2 separate regions of the Homo sapiens genome follow, and region 2 is linked to region 1. The links come from fine-mapping of genetic effects on gene expression. Tissue or cell type: whole blood. Region 1 holds a variant in brackets; the other region holds the start of a gene. All regions are shown on one strand. Distances are between the middles of the regions.

Region 1 (2,757 bases):
TGGAACTGCTCTGTGAAGACAGAAGGTGGTGGCCCACAAGGGGTTACTGTCACCAGTGTCTGTCCACACGTGCATAGTGTGCACCAGTGCGCAGGTGTTGAGATCAGGCTGGGCTGAGCTGAATCCCAGTTCTCTTATTGTAACCTTTAAGACCTTACATAAGTCCCTACCCTCCCTGAGCCTCCATAGCCTCATCTTTAACATAAAGGTGATCACGCTCGCCCCTCAGGGTTGCTGGTGTTCATTTGTTTACGTGGCAGTGATTTATCGGGCTCCTATAATGTATCAGGCACTGTGCTCAGCACAGTATCCCACAGTGAACAAAGCAGACACAATTCCTGTCTGCACAGAACTTACCTTTGAGTTGGAAAAAGTGACAGATGGCATGGAAATTGCCTAGGAAGGCCTGGTGTGTAAGATGTGTCCAGAGGTTGGCTATGGGCTGGGCCTCTGGGTGCCCGGCCCTGATCCCCTCAGCCCTTCTGGGAGATGTACGTGGCTCACTTGAAGTGCCTGGAGAGCAAATCCTCCCTTCTAGCCCCAGAGCCTTTAACCAGGACTGGTGGAGTTGGCAGATAAATCCCCAGCTCTGTCCCTGCTCGAGGGGTATCGGAGGAGCCCAGGGGGATTGGCTGCAGGTGCCCATCATGGTTGCTGCTTGACTGCATCCTTGACTGCCGCCTCCCCTTCCCTGTCTCGCTCCCCTACCCTCTTCTGGCATCTCCTGGGGCCACCTCCCAGTGGAACCACCTACACTGGAACCCTTGTCTTGGGGTAGGCTTCAAGAGAACCCAAACTAAGATGAGACGTTCCCCACATCTCTTTCCACTCCCAGGAGTTCCGCAAGGGCTGACGTACAGAGAGGGAGACTCCCAAGAGCAGCTCCAGAGAGGAAAGGCGGCACGTGTGGCTGTGACACTTGGCCAGAACCTCTCTGGCCTTTGCCCACCCTATGGTCTGACTGGGCACCAGGGAGAGGAGTGGGTAGAGAGGTCTGGAAAGGAACATTTTGAGCACCTACTGGGTAGCAGGGCCTGGGCTAGGCTTAGTCCTGTTGTCATTCCCATTTTGCAGATGAAGAAGCTCACAGAGGCTTCTCTCCTGCTAGGGCCCCACAGGTTAGAAGCCAGGCTGCCAGCAGAACTCAGACCAGGCAGCCCAATCTACAGCATGCTTGCTTTTCTTTTCTTTTTATTATTTATTTATTTATTTATTTATTTATTTATTTATTTAAGATGGATTCTCACTCTGTTGCCCAGGCTGGAGTGCAATGATGCGATCTTGGCTCACTGCAACTTCTGCTGCCTCAGTTCAAGCGATTCTCCTGCCTCAGCCTCCCGAGTAGCTGGGACTACAGGCACCTGCCACCATGCCCAGCTAATTTTTTTTGTATTTTTAGTAGGGACAGGATTTCACCATGTTGGCCAGGCTGGTCTCAAACTCCCGACCTCAAGTGATCCACCCGCCTCAGCCTCCCAAAGTGCTAGGATTACAGGCGTGAGCCACCGTGCCTGGCCTAGAGCATGCTTTCTTAACTACAGCACTATTCACATGTGGGTTGGATGATTCTTGTGGGATGGCCTTGTGCACTGCAGGCTATGTGGCAGCATTCCTGGCCTGTGCCTACTA[G/C]ATACTAGTAGAAACCTCCTCTAGCTGTGACAATCACAAATTTCTCCAGGCAGTGCCACATGTCCCCAGATGAGAACCACTGCATAACCACTGTACCACCTGCCCAGGCAGGCCCAGCCACCACCAGGCTAGGGTATCCCAATCAGCCAAAAGGCTGCACAGCCCTGAACACCTGCTGCTCCGAGACTGCCTGTCTCTATGCCCCAGAGACTGCAGACAGTGGAGATGCTGAGCAAAGTCACAGGCACAGTTAGGGCTTTGGTGGAATTGTGGGTGGGAGCTGCTAGGAAGCCAGCACTTAGGGATGCTCCAGGCCTCCCTCATTGGTCAGTGAAGGGGCTGAGTTGTTCCATTACTCACCCTTCCACCTTCCACTCATCCACCCTGCTGTCTAGACTAGAGGGCTTTGACTCAGCAAGAGACTCCAGGCTGGGGCCGAGATGGGCCCACGGCTGCCCTGGGACCAGGCGTTTAGTGCAGGAGCCCTGGAGCCAGGTGTTTGGACACCGCAGAAGGGGAGGTCAAAGAGGGAGAGACAGAAGATTCTGAATCTGTTTCCAAACTTTCAAGAAAAAAAAGTAAGAGTGAGAAACTAGGCTGATTAAGCCCCTGATTTTTGAAGGGGATACAATACTATCACTTTATAGCTTGCAGGTTAAGAGAATGGGCTCTAGGCCCAGACTGCCTGGTTTAAATCCTGGCTTTATCGCTAAATGTCTGTGCAACCTCAGGCAGGTTACTTGCCCTCTCTGTGCCTTAGTTTCCACTGTAAGACAGGCATGACAATGAGGATGTAAGACAGGGAGGATGAAATGAGTGATGAAGTGTTTAGAATAGTGCCTGGTGTGCAGTAAATGCTGTGGAAATGTTTGATAAATAAAATTCTCACAGTCCTTGCAGGGAAGAATGATTATCTTCATTCTGCAGACGAGGATATTGTCAAGTTGAAGAAGTTAGTAAGAGGCAGAGATGGGATTTGAACCCAAGCTTATCTGACTCTCACAACCAGTGTTTGTCAGCCATACCATACTGCCCAGGTATGAGACGGGAGGGGTGGCAAGGGTGTGGCCTGAGTGAAGCAGGGTCCACAGGTGGCAGGTCCCGGAGACTCATAAGGCAGCTCTGGGA
Region 2 (2,757 bases), 110 kb after region 1:
ACTCTAATTTGATCTCTTCTAGTGGCTCAGGAACGTTCTCATCAGTAGACTTTCTTGGCTTGTGGTCTGGAAAGTCTGGTTTAGTCCGCTCAGGTAGTTCTGTCCCTTTCTCCTCAGTTGCCTTTCTTTGCATCTCCTCTGGAACCTCTGGTTGAGTCTCTTCTGGAGGCTCTAGACCTGCCTCCTCACTAGACTTTCTTGGTTCCTTCTCCAGAAATTCCAGTCTAGCCTGCTCGGGTGGCTCTGTCCTTTTCTTCTCAGTTGACTCTCTTTGTGTCTCCTCTGGAGTCTCTGGTTTGGTCATCTTTGGTGGCTGAAGATCTGTCTCTTCAAGTGATTCTCCTAGTTTCTCACTTGGAAAATCTTGTTTGGTCTGCTCTGGAGGCTCTAGACCTGTCTCTTCATGTTGCACTCTAAGTGATTCCTCTGGAACCCCCGGTTCAGTCTCCTCCTCTAGTAATTCTAAATTTCTCTCTCTGACTGTGGCCCCCGAAACCTCAGACATGGTTTCCGTTGGTGGCACTGGATCTGGATCTGTTTCCATAGCTGACTCTAGGAACACATCCTCTGTAACATTTGGTTTAGCCTCCTCTGGTGGCTCTAGGTCTGACTCTTTATGCGTTTCATCCATAGGGGCCTCCAAATCTTTGAAAAACTCTCCCATCTCTCTGGATGTTTCCGACTTTACCTCTTGGTGTATCCCTGGTTCAGTTTCGCTTGGTACGTCTCTCTTGGACTCCTTGGCAATTCCTTCCTGGGACGTCCCGCCAGGTTTCAGCTGCACGTTCTTAGCACTGTCTGGCTCCCCCTCTTTGAAGTCCTCTTCCTCGGTCTCTGGCTGTGGCTCTTGGTAAATCTCTGCTGGTAGCTTCGAGTCTGCCTTTGCCATGGTGTCTGGTTCGGCATTTTCATACAATTTATGAAGTCCAGGCAGTTCAGGCCTCTCAGGCTCCAGCTCTCCATCTTCATCTGGGCCGGAATCATAATCCTCCGGGACTTCAGCCATTTGCAGCTTAGCAGACGCGCCGCGGCTTCCTAGCAACCCCAACTTCCGATAGCGTCTCTATGGATACCACGATTTCCGGCAGTGTCTTCCTGACTCTTCCCCAGGTTTTGTTTGTTCTTTCAAGCCCTGACTTTAAAAATCGTCTGTCACAAGCACGCAGTAACCCTCCCTGCGGCCTCATCGCCAGCCTCAGCGGGCCAGAGCTCCTGTGGCCGCCCCTGGGTCAGCTAGCTTTTCAAGCGGCCGCCGCGCCGCTTCTTCCGGCCTGCAGGCTGCGCTCGGCTGTGCTCGGCGCTCGCTCGGCCTTCGGCTGTTTCCGGAGCCACTCGCGGCTGGCAGCGGAGAGCTCCGTGCGCGGGCTGCAGATGTCTGACCTGCAGGCGGCTGAGGGGCCGGGCTCCTGGAGCCCCACAGCCCGCCCAGGGTCGGCTGGCGGCGTCGGGGACTGCCAGGGAGTGGAGGGGAGCCAGGCGGCCGCCTCAGGTACGCAAGGCCGGGGCGCTGGCGGGTGGGTGCCGCCCGGCCTCAGGGCCCCGCACCACGGCGCGAGCCTCCGCCGCGCTCTGTCCTGGGCTTCCCCGCGGAGCGGACCCACCTCGGCAGCCCCTTCGCGCGCGGGGCCCCTTCCCCGCCGCTGCCACCACCCGGGCCCTGGGCTCGAGGTTATTTTCTACTCACTCCTGTTTCGAAATGCCTTGATTCCTGCCCCGCTTCCTTTCTGAGATCTGCCCAAATGGTAGTGACAGGGTGGCTCTGCCCCTGGCGCCTCTTCAGCTTCAGTTTCAGCTTCAGCCGGGGTTCGGGTCCCACCTCCGTCTGCTAATCACATCTAGACTGCCGACCCGAACCCTACTGGCCTCGCCGCCCCCTGCTTCTGGCTCCCCACCCTATCCCCATCTCAGTCCCCTGCCCCAGCCTTACCACGCGCCTCTCGGCCCCCACCCGGGTTGGCAGCCTTGCCTTCCTCTGCCAGAAGCCCACTGCGCCCTAGCCTTCCTGCACATAGGCCCCCTGGCCTTGCTGCCATCCTCTCCATCGCTTAGAGTGGGAAAAATGAAAAGCAGAGTTGAAATAGGTAGTGTCTGGGGTCTTTTGCTTGAACACAGTAGCCAAAGCAAGAGCAGGAATTAAAAATTTGGCCTACCTCCCTCATTCTCAAGACCCTCATCCTCTTCTTGTCCAGGACGACGTCTCCATTTCTACTAACGCGAGTTCCTCCGTGTGTATTATTTCAGTGTCCAAAGACAAAAGAGTCCATCCATCACACTTTCTTCTTTCAGCCTCCTGAACACCACACACGATGCAACTGAAAGGATGCTCTTTTGAAATACGAAAGGGTAGAGGGGAGAGAACTTGTCTTATTTAAGTAGCAAATATAAATTAATTTTCTAGGTCTGAAATTAAAATAGACACCATAAAGTATAATGGTTGAGGCACTACTGTGGAGCCAGGGTGCCTGGATTGGAGTCTGAAACGTCAGTTTCCTCATCTGTAAAATGTGATTACTAAAAATATCTGCCTCATAGGATTATTGTGAGGATTACTTGAGCTGCTTTGTCTAAGGCATTTGGGGTATAGTCCATGGTACACACTATACTCGTCTCAACCATTGTGACAGTAAGGTCTCTTTTTGTTCAGTTGAACTTCCTGTGCCGCCAGAGGTGTTCTTGGATGTATGGCTTCCAACATGGTGCCTTTTTCTGTCTTCTACTCTGATCCCAAGTATCTTCCCTCTCATAATGCTGCCTTAT

The links. PIP is the estimated chance that this variant, and not a neighbour inherited with it, causes the effect.
Region 2: it holds the start of TMED8, and the variant in region 1 is fine-mapped to the expression of TMED8 in whole blood (INTERVAL, PIP above 0.99).

Annotation. Positions count from the first base shown.
Region 1 is chr14:77,485,720-77,488,476 of GRCh38, reverse strand. All of the region lies in intron 1 of ISM2 (isthmin 2), which reads left to right. Among named protein-coding and RNA genes, the nearest start is that of ISM2, 12 kb to the left of the region's middle. The variant G/C (reference allele first, on the strand shown) is at 1,630.
Region 2 is chr14:77,375,668-77,378,424 of GRCh38, reverse strand. It overlaps TMED8 (transmembrane p24 trafficking protein family member 8), which reads left to right and starts at 1,331. Exons shown (of 6, transcript NM_213601.3): 1 at 1,331-1,489. The coding sequence starts at 1,372. It overlaps SAMD15 (sterile alpha motif domain containing 15), which reads right to left and starts at 1,046. Exons shown (of 3, transcript NM_001010860.4): 1 at 1-1,046. The coding sequence starts at 1,006. RefSeq lists an enhancer at 1,064-1,273 and a silencer at 1,324-1,753.